5 separate regions of the Homo sapiens genome follow, and all the other regions are reported to be linked to region 2. The links are microRNA targets in miRTarBase. Many come from high-throughput screens and were not tested one by one. Region 2 holds a microRNA gene; each other region holds the end of a gene's coding sequence. Distances are between the middles of the regions.

The links. Region 2 holds the annotated microRNA hsa-miR-4520-2-3p (UUUGGACAGAAAACACGCAGGU, at 2,504-2,525, opposite strand). A microRNA usually pairs through its seed, bases 2 to 8, with sites in the 3' UTR of a target mRNA and lowers its output. Matches are read on the target gene's strand: a 7mer-m8 pairs with bases 2 to 8, a 7mer-A1 pairs with bases 2 to 7 and ends in A, and an 8mer does both.
Region 1: miRTarBase lists CALN1 as a target of hsa-miR-4520-2-3p. Seed matches in the 3' UTR shown: 7mer-A1 at 1,698-1,704.
Region 3: miRTarBase lists FAM83G as a target of hsa-miR-4520-2-3p. Seed matches in the 3' UTR shown: 7mer-A1 at 2,584-2,590 and 7mer-A1 at 969-975.
Region 4: the mRNA of MYOCD is a reported target of hsa-miR-4520-2-3p. Seed matches in the 3' UTR shown: 8mer at 347-354 and 7mer-m8 at 3,915-3,921.
Region 5: miRTarBase lists GINS4 as a target of hsa-miR-4520-2-3p. Seed matches in the 3' UTR shown: 7mer-m8 at 3,492-3,498.

What each region holds. Positions count from the first base shown.
Region 1 is chr7:71,784,049-71,788,192 of GRCh38, forward strand. CALN1 (calneuron 1) reads right to left here. Exons shown (of 7, transcript NM_031468.4): 7 at 1-3,854. The coding sequence ends at 3,727. Among named protein-coding and RNA genes, the nearest start is that of MIR3914-1, 480 kb to the left of the region's middle.
Region 2 is chr17:6,653,862-6,658,005 of GRCh38, reverse strand. MIR4520-2 (microRNA 4520-2) reads right to left here and starts at 2,557; the gene lies at 2,504-2,557. It overlaps MIR4520-1 (microRNA 4520-1), which reads left to right and starts at 2,497; the gene lies at 2,497-2,566. It also overlaps the pseudogene ALOX15P1. RefSeq lists enhancers at 589-638, 413-1,049, 2,327-2,899.
Region 3 is chr17:18,967,843-18,971,842 of GRCh38, forward strand. FAM83G (family with sequence similarity 83 member G) reads right to left here. Exons shown (of 6, transcript NM_001039999.3): 6 at 947-3,906. The coding sequence ends at 3,517. SLC5A10 (solute carrier family 5 member 10) reads left to right here. Exons shown (of 15, transcript NM_001042450.4): 6 at 1,210-1,315; 7 at 1,500-1,580; 8 at 3,171-3,376. Among named protein-coding and RNA genes, the nearest start is that of SLC5A10, 18 kb to the left of the region's middle. RefSeq lists enhancers at 92-1,035, 2,922-3,863.
Region 4 is chr17:12,763,374-12,767,517 of GRCh38, forward strand. It overlaps MYOCD (myocardin), which reads left to right. Exons shown (of 14, transcript NM_001146312.3): 14 at 1-4,144. The coding sequence ends at 271. It overlaps ARHGAP44-AS1 (ARHGAP44 and MYOCD antisense RNA 1), which reads right to left. Exons shown (of 2, transcript NR_104607.1): 2 at 1-345. Among named protein-coding and RNA genes, the nearest start is that of ARHGAP44, 24 kb to the right of the region's middle.
Region 5 is chr8:41,541,411-41,545,554 of GRCh38, forward strand. GINS4 (GINS complex subunit 4) reads left to right here. Exons shown (of 8, transcript NM_032336.3): 7 at 399-489; 8 at 581-3,620. The coding sequence ends at 677. All of the region lies in intron 1 of GPAT4-AS1 (GPAT4 and GINS4 antisense RNA 1), which reads right to left. Among named protein-coding and RNA genes, the nearest start is that of GINS4, 14 kb to the left of the region's middle. RefSeq lists enhancers at 1,537-1,766, 3,731-3,880, 3,941-4,030.

The DNA of each region.
Region 1 (4,144 bases), not on the chromosome of region 2:
GCAAACCGATACTTTTAAAGATTGGAGGCTTAATATCTTGTTTGCCTTCCAAGATGATATTTCTGTCAATTTACCTAGATTAAGGGGTCCTGGCTCTGGACCCTGGGAGAAGGGGCTGGGAGTAGGGATGGGGAGATACCAGGGCTTACAGGTAGCTCCTGCTCTCCTGAGTAAATAGAAGGACAAGTTCAAATGCCAGACAAAAAGGCAGAGATACCACCCAGATTCTTTAAGGGTAATTGCCTCTCCCAGCAGGATACAGATGCAGAGAGTCAGGTTGCACTCAGGCTGAATTGGAGTGTTCTTTAAGAAAATGTTCCCTATTTTTGTGTGCCTTGGCAAACTCAGGGTGGAATGCAAGGGTTGCCATGGTAATATCCCTCTTTTTTTTTTGTCAGATCAGTCACGTGGGACCCAAGCACATTCTGGAAGCCATTGCTAATAGTCCCGATGCTAGATTCTGTCTGGGGGCTTTGTGGGTATCTGGAAAGGTGGGGCGCAGCTTCTTTGGGGATCAAGGGGGTCAGGGTCCATTTCCCCTTCTCTCCCAAGGAAAATGCCTTCTTGCTCATCACTTGTGCTTTCCAGGGGGGCGGCGGGGGGTACCTGCTCTTGCAGCAAGAATGAGCCAACCTGTGTTTGTCAATCACTCAGCCTCCACACAGTTGGGCAGCCAAGGTCACTGGTTCCTAAGTCCGGAGGACAGAATGAGGGGTGAGCTATTCCCTCTCAATTCCTGCGGAAGTCACTTCCAGCTGGGGCTACATGGCATCCCTTGGGCATGGGAGACCAGGACCTTCTGGAATCTTCAGCCGTGAGCTTCATAGCCACCATGATGGGGACACTGACTGGCATGGGGCCCTAGCATAAAATTTGTGTGAACAGGGCTGGGAGTTGGCTGCCTGACAAGGAAGGCTTCCCTATACCCAAGACAAACTGTCCAAGCAAAGCAGCCAGGGTGCAAGTCACCGGGACAAACTCTGAGCTCCTGAAGTCTAAGGAATGCCGCTAGCTCAGGGCCGTCTCCACGCACTGTGTCCTTCAGTCCCTGGGTGCCACATGGGGGGTTACCACAGTGGGAAGATAACTCCTAGGCTGTCAGAAAGAATTCTGTGTCTTCCTTCTTGCCATCTCTCTCTAGCAGTCTGCAGAGGAATGCATTCTCCTAGATTTTCCCCTGGGGAGGGTGGGCTTGCTTCCAGGTCACTGGGAGCAAGAAGAAGGTCACCGTTAGGAAAGGAATCCTGCAGCCTTTCCAGAAAACAGGATGGCGGCGCCTCTCCAGAACTCCTTTTCCTCCCTACTCCTGCACAGTGGCTAATCTCTCTGCCAATGAAATCTAACCCTCACCTCTTGAAGGGTCTCTGTTCTCCAGCAGGAGGCAGAAGAACTCGCAGAAAAGCCACCTTCAAAGAAGTACTCATTTTCTGCCCTGAAGACCAGCCTCAGCTGCAGCATTTCAGTCCCCTCTCATGGAGGAGGGGGCTTTGAAGAATCATCCCTGGGGTTTCTACCCAGTCTACTTAGGGTCCTGCACCCCTATGGATGTGGTTGGGTGGTTCGGGGGTCAGGGAAAAACAGGAAAGTATATCCCTTCAAGATCTGCTATGCCCTCCCATCTAAGTCCAGATGGGAGAGGGCAAACTGCCCAGGGCAGAGATTAAGGATGAAGTTGTTCGATGTATTAATATTCTGCATTTGGACCGGTTCTAGTTGAGAATTCCAATCCTAAGGGGACAGTGGTGAGTCAGCCAACAGGAGCAGCAGAAGGGGCAGGCATGCAGTGTGCAGGCAGCAGGGCAGGTAAGGGGGAAAGGCAGGTTGCTGCCTCCTTGGTCTGGCCTTGCTGGGCTGAACTCCAGGAAGTTTTGCAGAGGGACCTGTGATCCCCCAGGCTCTTGGGAGCTTACATCTGCTCCCTCCTCCATATTATGGCTGAAGCCTTAGTTTTACTTGTGCTCATCAGGAATATTCATAGTCTCCCACAGAGGGAAAGTTTCTACAGCTGCCCTCAGGCTGTTGCCAGTAGCACTTGCAGAGGTGAATGAGAAAACTTTCATTGGAGACCTTGGGTGCTCCAAGTCTGAAAAGGCAGTAGGGAGAAAGCTGAGCAGGAAGACAGGGAGGGAGATCAGGAACACACAACGCACCAAAAAATCCTACCCACTGCATAGAGACAAGAAAGCTTCTGGTGGCTCGCTACTGGAAGGGGGGAAGCATGTAGTTTTAGGATGTAATCAAAAGAAGTAGGAGCAAGGTAATTCCATTACAAAATAAAGACCTGAGCTTGGAAAAGTACAAAGGGAACTATTACATCTAGAGATTACTGGCTAATCTGACTACACAAGCTTGAATTCATAGTAGTGGCTGACATCTAGGAAAAGTCAGGAAATTACAGACTTGGAATGGTGTTGAAAACAGATCCTTGGATTCAGTTCTCTTCCCCAACGAAAAGTATTCTGCAGGCAGGAGTAAATTACCTGTTCTGTTGGCTAAACTCATAAACATCTTTTCCCCCAACCTCCTGAAAATGAGTCAGTTGCAGAATCTGAAGGCCAGAAGATCTTATGTGAAAATACAGTCGTTTGATCTCTCCATCTTTCCATTTTGGATTGCATTTCTCTTTTTAGCTGGGGAAGACTAACAAAGCAAACTCCAAGGTAAGGGAAAGGTAAGATGCACAAGGACCTTAACTTACAAAGGTCATCCGGCATAGAGACGTGGTGGGTCTCCATGACTCCAGATGGCTGGGTGTGGGTATCAAAACCTCACCGCCAGTCCCAGTCCCCTCCCCCCTCAACCTGCCTCACCCCTGCCCCAAAGAAGCAGGGATGAGTGTGGGAGGGAGGACAAGCTTATATTAGGTGTAAGCGATTAGGGAAGAATGACATCACACACGAAGAAGCCAAATATATATATCTGTCTATGTTATAGAGATGCCCACGATTATGCTTCTTTTTTTCTCTAATGGCAGCACAGGCGGCAAAGCTGGGAGAAAGGCTCTCTGCAGGTTCCAAAATGCTGGTGCGGGATGGGCTCTAGGAACAGAAAGCCAAGTGCCGACGGAAACTGAGAGCACCCCAGCTCTACCAATGGCAGTCCTCTAGAAAAGGCAGTAAGAACGGAAGCGGTGAGGGGTGCAGCTGAAGACCGCCAGGGCTGCACCCCACTTAATGGCTTTCCCCTCATGCCTTGGGGGGGTCTCCACTGGGTGGAGGAAGGAAGCCAGGGTGGGATGGAAAGCCCCCTCTTCTGTGGCAACCCTGAAGTCAGCCTCTTGGAACTGAGGGTTGACCTCAGCAGAGAGTCTCCTGTTGACCCTTGGGTTGAAAGAATGGGGAGTGGAGGTGACTGTGTGTTCATGCCTCTCTCTTGCTCTCTCACCATTATACCTGGATGGCTGCTGGAATTCCGAGATGAAGATGAAGTTTTTCTCTAGAGTTATGACTGATGGTTGAAGCAATAATTTGGAAATCCTGGCGATTTATTGCATTAGAAAACAAAACCATTAAAGCACTGAAGACAGCCCTTTAGTGTCCCTGCCAAGGAGATGAAGCTGAAGTGCAACCCCAGTTGCACTCAACCTTGGGTTCTTTACTGAACGGTTCCATCGTCCGCATCCATCCATAGTCCATAGGTCCGTGTCTGCTGTGTGGAGGAAGAGTCTGCCCGCACGGCATGCACATGCGCGGTGAGCTGCAACACAGTGTGGCTGGCGGGAGGCTGCTACTCCATGCCGCTCCGGAGTATCTGGTTGGCTGCAATCAGCATGACACTGATGATGAAGGCCATAGCAAAGGCGCATATGAGGCTCTTCCGGACGCAGGTCTGTCTGTTCTGCTTCTGGGAATGCACTGGTGGTGGGAGAAGCAGGTGTGGGAAGAAGGAAGAGGGGTTGGGAGAAGAGAGAAGAGAGAAATAACACAGTGAGATAGGTTGCAACTCTTCCTCAACAGGCCAGCAGTGAGTCCTATAGGATGAGACTGGTCAAATCAAGTTGACAGGCATTTATGGGACCACTGCCATGGAGACTGCATAATACAAAATGCCTTCTGGTGAAAGGTATGAAATGAGAAAACTTCTATAACAAGAATCATGATGGATGTGATGATCAGAGTAAGGCCTAAATTTTCTGATAGAATAG
Region 2 (4,144 bases):
CCAGCCTCCCCTTGCTCTCACCCTTTGGCCAGCGAAACCTTAAAGTCAACACTCTTGTCTTCCAGAAATTGCTCATCCACAGGGAGGTCACATAGTTTTGCCCCAGCCACATTCAGAATTAACCCATCCTTCAAGTTTCCCCACCTGTAGGGCAGGAAGGAAATCAGGCGTGGGTGCTGGAAGCATCAGCAGCTCACGTGGGGTCAGGGGAGGAGGGCTCACCGGTACAACTTCCTTCTCTCTTCCAGCTCCTCTTCCTGGTGTTTCTGGAACAGGCCTCGAGGGTCGTCGCCCACAGTACGGCCTAGAAGGCCAGAGGAGGGCTTGGCCAGTGACTTTTGGTGAGCGCCTCTTCTCGCCCCTGCCAGGAGAGCCTCATCACTCCGTCCTTCTGTGTGACCCCTGCCTCTTCAGCATCACGCCCCTCCCCCAGGCTCCAGCCACTTTGTGCCAGCTGCAGCCACAGCCCCTTCGACACTCCCAAAGAGCCCTGCGCTCCAGGTTCCAGCACCCCCATCCTGCGCCCTCTTCTCCACACGCGCATCCCCCCAGCTTCTCTCGCACCCCAGAGGCCTCCTGACACCCCCAGCCCCGCGCTTACTGGTGCCTTCAGGCAGGCTCAGGACGCCGTCGACCTCCACCCAGCGGTAACAAGGGAACCTGACCTCGTCCCCGGCTCCGGGGCCCTACACGGAGATCCAGCTGCAGAACCTGAAGGAAGTGACGTTTGCGCAGTTTCACAAACATCAGCGGCCCCAGGTACTCCGGTACTTCCACCTTGAGTTCTGTCTCCTGCGGGCGACAGAAGAGGCTCAGCCCCGGTGGGGCCTGGCGGGAGGGGCACCCGGCTGAGCCCTGCTCCCTCCAGCGCCCACGCCCTTCCTCGGAGCCTCTGAGAGGAGGAGACGTATCGGGGTGGGGGGACTGAGCCAGAGAGAGAGGGACCGCGCCGAGCAGGTGGCCCCAGGACTCGGTTCTGAGGGGACGGGGACGGCAGGTGGGAAGGTGCGCTCCTGCCTTCACTTTCTCCTCCCTGTGGTCACTGACTGTGCCAAGCGCTGGGCTGAGCGCTGCCGCGCCCTGGACGAGCGCGCTGTGGAGCCCGGACGCGCTGGTGGCAATTCCCGCTGTGCGACCCCTCCACCCCACCCCGCCCGAGGCTGAGGACCTGCAGGGGCCCCACCGGCCTGGGGACAACCTTCCCGGAGACCTGGAGGCGGAGAGGGCTCAGCCAGGGAGAGTGACAGAAAGGGAAGGCAGGGGAAAGGCGCGCAGAAAGAGAGCGGCGGGGAAGGGAGGGCGAGCAGCATCTTGGATCTGGAGCTCAGAGCCCAGGTGTGGGGGGTCAGCAGGTCCGGAGGCTCTCGAAGGTGGCGCCAGGGGCTTTGGATTTGGTCCCGAGAACAAGCGGGAGCCGTTCGAATGTGTTAAGCAGGGGGAGTGAATTAGGGAGAAATCATTCCGGCTTCAGAAGGGCTTGGAAGGTCTGCAGCAGAGGTGGCGAGGCCGCTGGAGGTTTGAAATGGCTTTTAAAATAGAGAAACCGGGAGGACCGACGACCGCTCCGGCGACCGCAGTTTCCAGGCACCAGAGCTGTGTGGAATGAGGGGCGCTCAGGAGCATCCCCTTAATTCCAAGGAGATCGAGTAGCGGAAACATTTATTGAGCGTTTACTGTGTGTCACCAACTGCCCACCATAGGGAGGAAAAAAGGGAGGAGGGAGCGCGCCTTTCCACCTTCCGTGCCCCGTCCCCTCACCATGGAGTCGCGGGGCCACCTGCTCCGTGCGCATTTTCTCTCTTTCTGGCTCCCTTTGCCCCGCTTTCTCGGAAGCTCGGAGCAAGGGCGTGGAGTGCGGGGAGCAGGGCTCCGCAGGTTCAAGAGGACGCGGGCGATCGGGGGCGGGACGGATATTGGGCAGGGACGCGGGAGATGCTCAGGGTCTAGAACTGACTGCGCCGGATTCTTGTTTAGAGGGAGGTGAAGAGAGGAAGGAGGCGCGGGTGACACCGGGGGAGGCAGGAGGAGAGGGCTGGGAGGTGGGGAGAGGGGAGGACCTCATCCGGGCATGTTGCTTTGACGTTCCCTGAGACAGACATCCGGATTTGGCGATCTGGGAGAGAGCTAGAGCAGTGATGGGAATTTGGGCTTTCGCGGAAGAAAAAAAGTAACAGGACCGGGTAGAACACCCGGTAGATATGACATGAGATATGACGGGAGGTGGGTCGGGAAATCGAGAGCGTTCTCCTGTCTTGACTCCCCATCCCTTCCCTCTCACCACCCACTCCACCCCAGGTGATAAAGCCTGAAAGGTAGAGATCCAACAGCGCTAGCGGTTGAAACGTTTTTTAAAATAGAGAAAGCGAGAGGACCGACGGCGGCTCCGGTGACTGCTGAGTTTCCAGACAAGGGAGCTCTGTGCAATGAGGGGCGCACAGGAGCATGCCCTCAATTCCAAGAAGATCAGGTAGCCGGAAAATTTATTAAGCGCTTACTGTGTGCCACCTGCGTGTTTTCTGTCCAAATCAGAAAAGGATTTGGACAGAAAACACGCAGGAAGAAGGAATCAACCCCTGGTACAGCAGGCAGGCGAGGTAGGGGTAGGAGTTATGCACGTGTATGCAAGCCTGGATGGCTGGGAAGCCAACCTCCATCTAAAGGCAAGCGCGGACATGCACACACACACACACGCCTCACAAGTTGGATTGCAAGAGAGGGTGAAGTGGGCGAGGAGACCCAGTCAGCCGTGGCATTTGAGGAAGGTACATTTAGGCCACCGAATTCATTCCACCAACTTTGCACACTTGTCTTCCTTGTGCCAGGCTCTGGGACTCATTCCTTTTGAGGGTAAAAGTCTGCCTCCCTGGACTCCTGCCCCTCAGGCGCTCCCACAGCCCGGCACCGCCCCCTCGCCATTCCGGAGCCAGCGCGGGCTAAGCGGGCCTGGCCGGGGATGAGCGGAGCCACCGTCCCCATATTCCTCGGTGCCCCGGGACCGCAAGAGGGAGCCGTGGTTTCCGGAACTCCTCCCGCCCCTCCGGGCTTTTCCTCTGTTAGGCAGGTGGCGATTCGCTGTCTTTGCCTGTTATGGCCGCTGCCGTCGCCCTGGAGACAGGTGAGTAGCGCTCTGAGCCTGGAGTCTTCGCAGATAGAACTCTCCTTGGCCCAGACCTCTTCTCCCGCTTCCCCTGGGCCTCCTTCCAGGCCTCACTCCCGGCAGGATTAGTATTTGGACAGGGAGGAGAGAAGGCTCTTGCAGCGTCTAGAAAGGCTAAGGTACTCTGCAGTTTTCCTAATTTGGTTTGTTCGCACACCTTTGCTATTCAAACACGACCCCACCAGCTTCCCAGCGTGGGCGAGACTAAGGGAGAGGACTTGTGTCTTAAAGCGTGTCCTCCTTGTGTCTTAAAGCGTGTCCTTGATTGGTTTTCTGCTTCTCACATGAGCTTGCATACGTTTGAAATATCGTCGCCAGACCTGTGTATCATTGTGTTACTTGTGATTCTTATATATGCATATGTTCCATCATCTTTTAGGCTCTCTGGAGTCTCTTGTTCAGCTTGCATCCTAAGTTTTTCTTAACTGATTCAGCACGTGCTTTTGCGAAACTTAATCACTGTTAACAATTGTTACAATGCATTATTAAAATAGGGGAAGCCACAGTTATTACAGCCTACCTTAGAGATCACTGTTAAAATTCCTACATAGTGGCCCATGAGTGGTAGGTATTGTGTCTCATTTGTGTTGCTGTTTTCTTTGATGATTTCTCTTTACTTTTAAAGGTAACCCTCTTCCATGACTGTTCCTTAAAGTGGTGCGCTGTCCCAGTAGACCATGCTCTAGCTTTCCAAGCTGCTAGAACTGTCAGTGTTTCTCAGCCTTGGCACTATTGACATTTTGGGACCAGTGATTCTTCATCGTTGGCAGAGGGGAGGGTGTTGACCTGTGCACTGTAGGATGTCAGGTGGCATCCCCGGACTCTACCCGCTAGGTGCCAGTAGCACCTAATGTGCCACCCACCCCCTCCCAACAACTTTTCAACCAAACTAAAATGTCTCTAGAGGTTGCCATATATCCTCTGGGGGACAAAATCACACTTAGTTGAGAACCACTGTCCCACATTCTACACACAGAAGCCAAAAGG
Region 3 (4,000 bases), 12 Mb from region 2:
TCTCTACTTGGGCTGGAGGCAGATCCCGCCCCCACCCCCCACCACACCTTCCCCTGAACTACCTGCCCTTCCTATACACACACACACACAGCCAAAGATAAGGACCAGAGCCGGGGTTCTCCTGAAAGCCCCTGGCTAGTTTCCAAACTGGCTGGTCTCTCTAAGACAGGTTGAGAGAGGCGCCTGGAGGGAGAGGTACAGGAAGCACAGGCTTTGGAGCCAGATCCCATCCTGCCTGGGCCCTGTGTCAGACCCCAGGAGGCAGGGATCCCTGCCTGGGGGAGCTCAAAGGGGCCTGGGGCCTGCACTTCCTGGGCCTCGTGCAGATGTGTCCCCACACTAGGAAGCACAGGGCCCCAGCCTTCTCAGGAAGCTCCTGGCCCCTGAGGCTGTGTGTTGGGTCATCTCGCATCTCCTGAGTCAAAGCAGAATGGTAGGTTTAGGAACTCAGGGGTGGGGCAAGGTGAAGCCTGTTACTAGCCCATGTCCCAGAGAACAGGGTCCTGCCCTTCCTCTCACTGGGCCCCTACTGCCAGGTGGAGGGTGGGATTCTGGTCTTTGAGGCCCATGCCAGGCAGAGGTTGGCCTCCAGGCTAGCGCTCCTGCCTTTAGGAGGAGCAGCCACAGGTTCTGGGAGGGCAGGGGCTGTGTCCAGTCAGTGTGGAGACCAGCTTCAGCCTGAGACCCAGCCTCTGAGCCACTATTGGCTTCAGTTCCAAACCCACTGGGGGGTGGGGGCAGGAAGCAAGGCTGCCCCTCTGTTTCCTGGTCCGCCCAGCACACACTTTTCCTGAGGCCTACTGGTCCGCCCAGCACACACTTTTCCTGAGGCCTACTGGTCTTCACAGACTCCTCACAAACTCATCAAGGTGCCCCTGGGAACCGAGGGGACAGGGCTCTGCCTTTTATCCCCTCGGGAAGGGGCCAGATTCAATAACAACACTGCTTTTGGGAAAGGCATTGGCCACTTTGGACTTTATTAGCAACAGTAATGTCCCCTGACATCCGCACAAGCTTGTAGCTCCACGGCCAGGTCTTCCCCCAACCTCACAATGGCCCCGTGATGCAGGCAGGCAGGCGAGTGGGGGTCTCCCCTCCTTATCCACAGGCCACCGAGGCCCAGAGAGGGCCTTGCCCGAGGTCACCCAGGGAGTGGCTTGCTGGAGCCCTGGGAATAACAGTCCCACACAAGGCTCTCTCCCTCCGCAGCTGGACCTGTACGCGGGGGCTCTGTTTGTGCACATCTGCCTGGGCTGGAACTTCTACCTCTCCACCATCCTCACGCTCGGCATCACAGCCCTGTACACCATCGCAGGTATGGTGCCTGCAGCAGGGAGGTCCACCCAGGGGACGTGTAAAGGGGTCAGAAGGCCACCTCCCCCTACAGGCCCGAGGGAGCAGCCCAGGAAGTGGCCCCAGCAGGAGCCCCAGAAGTTCCTCCCCGTGTCCCTCCTCCCTGGGGCCAGGGCCCCCTCCAGCAACCTTGCTTCCACTGGCAGGGGGCCTGGCTGCTGTAATCTACACGGACGCCCTGCAGACGCTCATCATGGTGGTGGGGGCTGTCATCCTGACAATCAAAGGTGAGGACAGAGTCTGTGGCCATGGCGGGGCTGTCCCCACAGCGAGCCCTTTGGAGTCTGGCACTGCCCGGCACTGTGCAGGATTCATGCCGTTGGGGTTCTGGGTAGCATCGCTGGGAGTGGGTGGGTTCAGGAGGTTGAGCCACTAGGCAGTCAGCCCCCCTGCTGGCCCCTCAGGGACTGCCCTGGCTGGTAGAGGCTACCCACCCTGCTGCCCCGCTGTTACCAGCTCTGGCCCTGGCAAGGAGCTGACTCAGGAACTCAGGGCCAGCCACACCCGCATTGGCTCAGCGCTTGATGGTGAGGTGGGGCTGTAGGCGGGTGTGAAGGCACACAACCAGGAGGCCATAAAACTGCCTGGGCAGCTCCTCCAATTGTTTAAAAGCATGTACAAAATGCCAAGAGGTGATGCTACCTCCTGCAGGACAAAGGCCAGGGAGGAAAGAAGAGAGCTGGGAGAGATTGGCGATACTAGTCTGGAACAGATAGGAAACTCACAGGGCTGCCCGGAGAGAGCGTGAGCTCACCGTCCCTGGAAGTATGTAAGCAGAGCCAGGAGGATCCCTCAGAGAGTGAACAAATCTCTAAAGACTCTTCCAGACTCAGACACTGGGACCCTGTGGCTGAGCAGTTTCTAACCCTTGAATGGCACTTGTTCATTTGCTCTGAGCCTCACACAAACCCTCGGTCTGAATACAGAGCCTGACCTGAGCTCCATGGGAACAGTGATGCTGGGGAGACCAGCATCCAGGCAGCAGGCTGCCTCTTCCATGTCCCACTTGGAAAAGGCTAGGGAGTAGGGCCTGGGGTGGAAACGGGTTTTCCTACATCCAGGCTTCTCCCTCTCAGACCAGGGGCTCTAGTGTCCCTGGGACCCACCGCATGAGAGGGATCCCAGCAGCCAGGCCCAGTCTGGAAGGGAGGGGAGTGACACAGACACAGATGGGCCAGGGCTTGGCCATGCCGGGCCCTGACCCCGAGGTAGACAGGAACAGTGAGGTGTTTTGGACTGGAGAGGAAAAAGCCCCGGCTTGAGCCCGCCAGATGGTCTATATGGTCTTGGTGGAGGCCCCATCCCTCTCTGGACCTGTCTCCCTCTTCTCTGTGCCTCAGGGGGTGGGGCCACATCACCACCAGCCACTCTCAGCTCTGCTAAAATCACACCCTTCAGGTGATCAGGATGAACACTTTAGAAGCCTCAGGAAGGTCCTCAAATGTCAAGAAAAATTACTTTTGCTTCCTTGAATCGACAATCGGAAACCTGGCTGAGAACCACTTGCCCAAGGCCGATGAGTGTCCAGAGGCCAACAGTGACTCCTGCTGGGCCAGCGGGACACTGGGGTGCCCATGTGCAAAATGCTTACTTAATAGTATTATTTTAAATACGAATAAAATAGTCATTCAAATACACCTTAAAAAAAAAAACAACCCTCTACCCTCACACCTTTCCAAACACTGGGAAAGATGAGGTGGAAAAAACTCAAGTTTGATGCATCAGGAAGTTTCTTGTGAGATGAAGGCAGGGGGGAGCCCAGGGAGTCAGGGCCCCGCAACCACCAAACTGTCCCTGTTCCACCCTGACCCCTCCAGCTTTTGACCAGATCGGTGGTTACGGGCAGCTGGAGGCAGCCTACGCCCAGGCCATTCCCTCCAGGACCATTGCCAACACCACCTGCCACCTGCCACGTACAGACGCCATGCACATGTTTCGAGACCCCCACACAGGGGACCTGCCGTGGACCGGGATGACCTTTGGCCTGACCATCATGGCCACCTGGTACTGGTGCACCGACCAGGTGAGTGCCAACGTCTCCCGCCCATCCCACCTTCCTGCCGTCCCAGTGGGCTCTGGTAGGCCCAGGCGGCCTGTCTGCCCTCCGCGTCATGAGTCTGGGCTGGGGCCTCAGAAGGTGTGGCTCCAGGCTGGGACATGCTGCTAGGGGTCTTTGCGGTCCCGGGGGGCTTGAGCCCTCCGTTTAGAATCCGATGAGGCCCACTGGCTACCGCCCGTCCTGGCCTTTAGGTGCTTCGACTGAGACAGTTTGGAGTATGGGATTCCGAAGGGACTCGGATGCTCCTCGGTGGCCCTGCCATCGGTCATGGGGCGGGCATTTTGGGCCAGTCTTGGGCTGCCGGGATCCGGAAGCAGGCGGGGTACCTGACCTCCCTTGGCCTGCCAGTGGTGGGGGCCAGCCATGGCTGGGCCAGCGTTTCTGGTAGAGCTCTGGACGCTGTCAGCAGCAGAGCGGTACCTAGGGGGTCCTGGGAAGCCGTCTTTATCCCTAGTCCCTGAGGCAGGGACCCTGTGATGATGAAACTGCTGGCCCTGGGAGAGAGAGAGCAGAGAGTGAGGCTGAGCAAGAAGGGCCAACCCCGCCCCAGCACAGGACCCTGCTCAGGCACACAGGAGCCGGCAGGCC
Region 4 (4,144 bases), 6.1 Mb from region 2:
CCTCTTCAATGCACATGAGATCTTGCCAGGCCCCCTCTCTCCAATGCAGACACAGTTTTCACCCTCTTCTGTGGACAGCAATGGGCTGCAGTTAAGCTTCACTGAATCTCCCTGGGAAACCATGGAGTGGCTGGACCTCACTCCGCCAAATTCCACACCAGGCTTTAGCGCCCTCACCACCAGCAGCCCCAGCATCTTCAACATCGATTTCCTGGATGTCACTGATCTCAATTTGAATTCTTCCATGGACCTTCACTTGCAGCAGTGGTAGAATGCCCAATGCACCAGTGCTATGGAAGACCAATGGAGTTCCATGGGGGAAAGCACACAGCCATACATACTTTACTGTCCAAAAACAGAAGAAGAAGAAGAGAATTAAAAAGAAGCAATGATTTCTGTGCCAATGAACAAGAACAAAAGTCATTTTTAGAAATACATATACTGTAATATTTACCAACAGTCAGTAACTGTTAATGATTTCAACAATGCATTAAAAGAATGTGCTTTCTCAGATTAAGGATGCCAAAAAAGATATTTCACTGCCTTTTCAAAGACCAGTATATTTTCTAGCCCATAATTTTTCTCAGGCATTGTTGGGGCATAAGCTCACACTGTAAGCTTTTCTCATGAATTCACTAGACATAACGTGGAAGGAAAACGTAGTCTTTTGGGAGTACAGGGAAGCCAGCCCCTCAAAGCTTATGGAAGACATACCTGCAATGGAAGCTGTTGCCCAATGTCTCCATTACTATCTTTCAAAAGAGAAGCCAGACCCAGCTTCAGATCAAAAGTTCTTGAGACAGAGGAACAAAACCAATCGATTTCCAGGGAAGCTAATCAACTCTCTTTTCCCTCTACCACAAAACTGCCCTGCTGGAGTGGTTCTGAACCTGTACCCAGGACTCGATGTGGTCACTAATAACAATTAACCTGAACTGAGTCCACAGAACTCCACTCGGAACTTTCTTCTTTTTTAACTAGTGGCCCAATCATTCCCACCATCTCTGTGCTGATAAGTACGTGTCCTAGATGAGAACCCTGAAGAATGCAGACCTTCTTCCCCCGAAGGAGATGCCACAAGCTCTCCAACACAGCCCCCTTTAGTTCCAAAGACTAGAGATGACCACATTGGTAGAAGTATATCTCGAGGCACAGGAAGGGAGCCCCACCAGGGATAATTCAGACAGGACTAGAGAATAACATCATTTCACATACCCTGGGATAAACACCCTGGGTTCCTATAGAAGGACTATTACTTATGGGAGTCCAACTTCTCCTTTTGTTTTGTTATTATCAGTTTATCTTTCTCCCACTCCACTTTTCCTTCAAGGTACCAATCCTTTCCTGTTCCTCGTTTGGCCATCTTTCTTTTTCTGCCTCCACATTGGGAGGGGAGGACTTCTCAGTTCTAACAAGCTGCCATACTCCTAAGAAAGCCATTTTTGAAAAATTTAACAATCCAGGTTCTTCTGGAGAACTCATTCTCCACACGCACAGTTTGCTGCAAAAGGAAGTTGCAAGAATTTCTTGAGGAAGAAACTGGTGACTTGGTCCATCAGTCACGAAGTTCTTTCTATTCTCGTTTAGTTTTCAAGAAATTATTGGTTTGTGTTGCTCTGGGGAAATTGGAAATCATTACATTGTAAAGACAAATATGGATGATATTTACAAGAGAGAATTTCAGATCTGGGTTTTTGAAAGAAAACAGAATTGCGCATTGAAAACGATGGAAGGAAAAAGACAATGGTCTAATGTGCATTCCTCATTACCTCTCGTGGCTTTGGCTGGGAGTTGGAAAAAGCTAAAATTTCAGAACAGTCTCTGTAAGGCTCTCTGTGGCTCCAGTTCACCATTTTATATTGTTGCATGCTGTAGAAAGGAGCTATTGCTGTTGTTTTGTTTTTTTATTTAAATCACTAAGGCACTGTTTTTATCTTTTGTAAAAAAAAAAAAAAAGTTGTTCACTGTGCACTTATAGAAAAAATAATCAAAAATGTTGGGATTTTAGAAGCTCTCTTTTTGATAAACCAAAGATTTAGAAGTCATTCCATTGTTAACTTGTAAAAATGTGTGAACACAGAGAGTTTTTGGTGATTGCTACTCTGAAAGCTGCCAGATCTTATTCTGGGGGTGGGATGTGGAGGAATACACATACACACACAAACATACATGTATGTATAATAGATATATACATATGTGTATATTATATCTGTGTGTGCATGTATCTCCAAAAGCGGCGTTACAGAGTTCTACACCAAAAGCCTTTAACCCTTAATCTGCTGTGAATGATACCTGGCCTTTCTCACTATGAATTTCTGATTAACCAACCAGACTACACGTTGCCTCTCTGTGTATGACTAACGGCTCCAACCCGATGACTCACAGCTACTTGCTTATCGTGAACAAGCTCATCTTGGCAATGAATATGGATGTGAAAAGACAGAACAGCTTCACCATTAGTAGCTGGAAATGGTATCACAGTCTCTTATAGAGGAATATGAAAGGAACAAGAAAATCATTTTACATTCCTTTTATCTGTATTGTGCTTTAAAAGATCCACATGGTAAATTTTTTATTTTGCTTTTATGTCAGTCATCAGAACCAAAAAAATCCAGAAGAAAAAATTGCCAGTGTTTCCTTTGAAGATGAAGCTACTGGGGAAGAAAACCTTATTAATACACTCCACACATTTGTTCATTCCTCAGCTGTTGGTGTTTTCTTGGGGTCTTGACAAAGCTTGCTGGTCAGTGCACTTTTCAGGTGTCACGTTTTGCTGTTTGTATGTTTTTTCTTCCCCTTACTTCCTTTGGAAAACAAACTCACACAGTGCCCCTACTCTGAGACCTGGGACTGAGTGTTAATTATTTTTTCCTTGGGTATTTCTATCTGAGAGACTAGACCTAGTTAGGAGGCCTCTGTACTTCTCCAGATTGTACCTTTTTATGGGGATCTTTGAGGCTATGACCCAGGACTGATAGATATGCCTTACGGAAGACAAAAGATAAAATGGTTCCTATATCCTAATGCAAACCAACACAGTTAAAAGAGCAGATCTCTGGATAACTGCTCTCAACCTGCTTCTACAGTCTCCACAAACCGCATTCACCCTCTCTCTTCATAGCTCAGACATGAAATTTGAGGGAGAAAACTGGAGATAATTGGGAGAAAATTGATGAAGTTGGCTGCTTCCAGTAGATCAGATAATCCATGAATTTGTCTCCCATTGAGAATTTTATTTTAAATTCTTTTAAACTCTTCGTTGTGTCTTTTGTGATGACAAATCAGGCATGACTAAAAGATGTACAGAGACTTACGAAGATGGTCACATTCAAGTTCCCTAATGCTCTTAGAACCTGAAGATGACCATGTGTAGTTTTCTTAAGACCTCTGAACCCCCATGGTGATGAAGACTTGAAGACATTTGCAGCTATCTGCTGCAGTCTGGTAGATTCATACTTATCTAAAGAAGTCAAAAAATTTATTCGTGCAAGTGCTTGCAGGAAGCCAGTGCTTATTAGTAGTGACCCTGCTTCTATCAACGTTATTGAGACAACACATATTCTATTCTAAGGGAGAAAGAGGGAGGAAGAGAGGGAGGGAGGGAGGAAGAAGAGGGAGGGAGCGAGGAAGGAAGATAGGAGATGGGTAGGGGGGTAAAGAGAAAAGGAGGGAGAAGGGAAGGAAGGAAAGAAGAGAGGAAAGAAAGGAGGGAAGGAAAAAAGGGCCAAACTTTCTGATCTATGAACTTCTCAGTTCAGCTGTCACATTATGAGAAGTAAATCAGAATTTTTTTAAGGAGAAGTCATTCTTAGCACTACAATAATTGTACCAGTAATTGAGGAAACCAAGACAATCTTCACCTGAATAATAGAGGGTCTGAGAACTGTCAGCCTTTTGCCATTCAAAAACATTTATGTCCAACCTGAAAAAAAAGCATCAATAAAACCTATCCCAAGCATTCAAAATAGTCCTTTCCAAATGTTATTTATTTTAAAGTCAATCAGCTCTTTTAGAAACAGATTCTGGTCTGGCTGAAAACTCCCACAACAAATTTACTCATCCAGTGGCTAATATTTAATGCCCACCATGGGCAGAGCACACAAATCTTCAGATAAACAATACTGAATTGATTCAGCACAGATTG
Region 5 (4,144 bases), not on the chromosome of region 2:
GGGCCCACACTACTTGGCCTCGCTTTCACTTAATTGCCTCTTTAAAAGCCCTGTTTCCGAATACAATCCCACGCTGAAATACTGGGGGTTAGGGCTTCAGCGTATGAATTGTGCAGGGACACAGTGTAGCCCATAACACCAGGAGCAAGTCAGACCCATACCAGACTTGTGGAACCCTGAATTGGTCATTTTGCTGAGGCTGCCTGAGGAAAACAAAAGGCCCAATGCGTGTCCGGTTTCCTCCCTGGTCAGCCACTCTGTCTGCATCTTTGAAGAGTAGGAATGGGCTGGGCTCCTATCTAAACCCTGAGTGTGCCATACCATTCTTCCCAGCAACTTTTACTTTGTTGACTTTGTTGGCCGAGGATTTCCTAATCACATTGTTGTTTTCCTGGCAGTTCCCAAACCAGATCTAGATTCTTACGTGTTTCTGAGAGTGAGAGAACGACAAGAAAACATACTGGTAGAACCAGACACAGATGAGCAGAGGTGAGTGGCGTGCATCTTTCACAGTGGGCACATTCCTCCCGATGGAGGGCCAGCCGAGCTCTGCAGGCAAATGTGTTTCCCTCTTTTTCAGGGACTACGTGATTGACCTGGAGAAGGGCTCACAGCACTTGATCCGATACAAAACCATTGCACCTCTGGTTGCATCTGGAGCTGTCCAGCTAATTTAAAACTAGGCATAAACAGCCAGGCATGGTGACTCAAGCCTGTAATCCCAGCACTTTGGGAGGCCGAGGCGGGCGGATCATGAGGTCAGGAGTTCGAGACCAACCGACCAACATGGTGAAACCCCATCTTTACTAAAAATACAAAATAATTAGCCGGGTGTTGGTGGTGTGCACCTGTAATCCCAGCTACTCAGGAGGCCGGGGCAGGAGAATCGCTTGAACCTGGGAGCAGGAGGTTGCAGTGAGCCGAGGTCGTGCCATTGCACTCCAGCCTGGGTGACAGTGAGACTTTGTCTCAAAAAAAAAAACAAAAAACAAAAAAAAAACAAACTAGGCATAAACTCATGAGGTCAGGAGATCAAGACCATCCTGGCTACTAAACCCCATCTCTACTAAACCCATCTCTACTAAAAATACAAAAAATTAGCCAGGCATGGTGGCGGGCCCATCTACTCAGGAGGCTGAGGCAGGAGAATGGTGTGAACCCGGGAGGTGGAGCTTGCAGTGAGCCAAGATCGTGCCATTGCACTCTAGCCTGGGCGACAGAGCGAGACTCCATTTCCAAAAAAAACACACTAGGCGTAAACAAGAATGAAGACCTGGAACCGTAGAGAAAATACTAGAAACCCCTCGTATCACGTTGTGCCTGAGGACAATAATAAAGTAGTTTACTAGGCATCAGACATTCCTCAGCAGTGCTGTGGGTCACGGGCGTGAAGCGGAGCTCGAGGCAGGATTGCTTGTGTTGCTGCATGTCCTGTCTGCTGTTTTAGCCCGTGTCAGTAGATGGGGCCATTGTACTGTTTGTTCTGCACACTTGGCGGAGCAGCAGAGGCTCTCAGCACGCCTTTTCCCTTTGTAGTATTTTCTGAGCTAAGGAAAGTCAGGCAGAAGTAGTTCATAAGAAGGCATCACTGCCTGTGATCGGGGCTGCATTTAGCCCTGACCTGATAATGGTAGGAGAGTTCATTTAGCCTTTCTGCTGCGAAGATTGTAAATAGATTAAAGAAAACAGCTGTGGCCTTCTCCCGTCATACATCATTAGACTGTGTAAACTAACATTTTAGAACCTCTAATATTGGACTTAAAACCAATTTCTGTCGTGCTTAATTGAAAATCACAACTAAACCAATAAACCATTATTAAATTTCCATTCTGCAGCAGAAGGCACCTCTGGACGGCTCCCGGCTTGTAGTTTAATGAAGTATGTGCTCCCTGCTGTTAACCCGCAGCCCTCCCCAACTCTCCAGCAGCTTTGCCAAGTCAGCCTCCGGGCCATCTGGCTGTCCTTGGCCAAGGCACTGTTAACGGAGTGACGTTAACCATCTTGTATTGTGACCTGTGGCCGCTTTTCTGGTTTAAGTCCTTCACTTTTTCAAGAGGAATGGATGAAATTAATGTGCATGCAGAGTCTCACAGTGATGCCGGAAGGAAGGATGTATAGGCAGTGAATGAATGATCTTTCCTTGAAATGCTATAAAAAGCAACCTGCATTCCAGTCTTTTCTTCCTGGTTGAAGTTGGCAGATTTCCATTTGCAGGGTATGGGCTGCGAGAGTAATCAGGGTAACATTGCTGTCATTTCCAAGAGAAATCAGTAGGGGAAAGCAAGGGAGGTCTTTTTTTTTTTTCTTTTTTGAGACGGAGTTTCCCTCTTGTTACCCAGGCTGGAGTGGCAGTGGTGTGAACACGGCTCACTGCAGCCTCCACCTCCTGGGTTCAAGAGATTCTCCTGCCCCAGCCTCCCGAGTAGCTGGTATTATAGGTGCACACCACCACACCCAACTAATTTTTTGTATTTTTAGTAGAGATGGGGTTTCATGATGTTGGCCAAGCTGGTCTCGAGCTCCTGACCCCAGGTGATCCACCCACCTCGGCCTCCCAAAGTGCTGGAATTATAGGCGTGAGCCACTGCGCACGGCCTGGGGAGGTTTTATTTCTTGACAAAGGTATTTGATACTCGTGCAGTCCCTGGAGGGTCTCACTGGAGAGACAACATTTAGGCTGAGATCTGATTAACAGGAGGCAGCTGCAGTGCAGAGGTCAAAAGGGAGGGTGTTCCAGGCAGAGAAAACAGCCTGTGCAAAGGCCCTGAGGCAGAAACAAACTCTACTTGAGGTCAGCCTGGTTAGAAAGCCCAACTCAAAATAGAAAGTATTACATGATAAGGTCTGAGGCAGGCTGGACCCAGATCTTACAGGACCTTGTTAATAAGGATCCCATTTGGTCCCCCACAGTCCTGAGAAGCGGGCAGGGCTGTGGGAAACAGCAGATATTTAGTGGTAAGCCTGAGATCAGAACCCAAGTCTGCACTTCCTAGTCACGTTCTCCCTGTAGTGCTAAGCCCAGAGACCTGAGCTGTTAACCTAGAACAGTGTGCTTCCTAAGCCTTAATGTGCATACCCATCGCCTGGAGCTCGCCTTAAGATGTAGGTTCTGCCTGAAGCCCAAGTTCATTTAGTATGTCATGGTTAATTCAGAGTAAAATCAAGAGTTAGTACTTGATTTATGCTTGTTATATAAAGAAAGAGACAACTTCACTGTATGATCATTTTGTCACTTTTCAAAAGCATTTAATTCCCATTCAATTGAAAATGTTTCAAGAACAAACCTGTTTGGTCATTTTATTGATATTGCACATTTGTATATGAATAAATTTTTGCAAATTAAAAAAAAAAAAGATGTAGGTTCTGAAACAGGGTGAGGTCCAGGATCCTGCCTTTCTAAGGAGCTCCCATGTTGTGCAGTTGCTGCTGGCCCGGGGACCACATTGAATGACGGCTCTACGTCCTCATGCCTCCAGCTGCTGCCCTGTACATGTCCAACTGCACGGAGCACTTTACATCCTCTAAAACCACAGTAAATTGCTCCATTTCCTAAATTACCTCTTCAAGAGAAGACTGGTTTTGATGTCATTTTTAAATAAAGGAGAAGTTGAATTTCAAAACCAAGTGGAACAGGAAATGATGTGACTTGGTTGACATTGATTTTAACATTTGGTTCATGGTGAGTGTTTTGCTTTATTGTTAAAAACTCGCCACTAAAAGCATGACAGAACATTTTATCAAATGATGGCGTCATCCTTTACCGTAAGTTTGCCCCTAGCAAGACAGCTCTTCCTGAGACGTGCTTGCAGGCCGCTATGTGGGTTTTCCCACCGCAGTCATCATCCGTCATCTGTGACCTTGCTGCATTTACTCCATGCTCACACCCCAGCAGCCCGCCTGGCTTTGGCATCGCCCTCAGAGGCATCAAACTTCCCCTGCTGCAATGTACAAGAGTTAGCCAGGAAGCTTGCAGAGTGCTTTGGTTTTGTTTTGTTTTTTTGACATGTCGCCCTGGCTGGAGTACAGTGGTACAATCTCAGCTCACTGCAACCTCCGCCTCCTGGGTTCAAGCGATTCTCCTGCCTCAGCCTCCCAAGTAGCTGGGATTACAGGTGCACACCATGACACCCAGCTAATTTTTGTA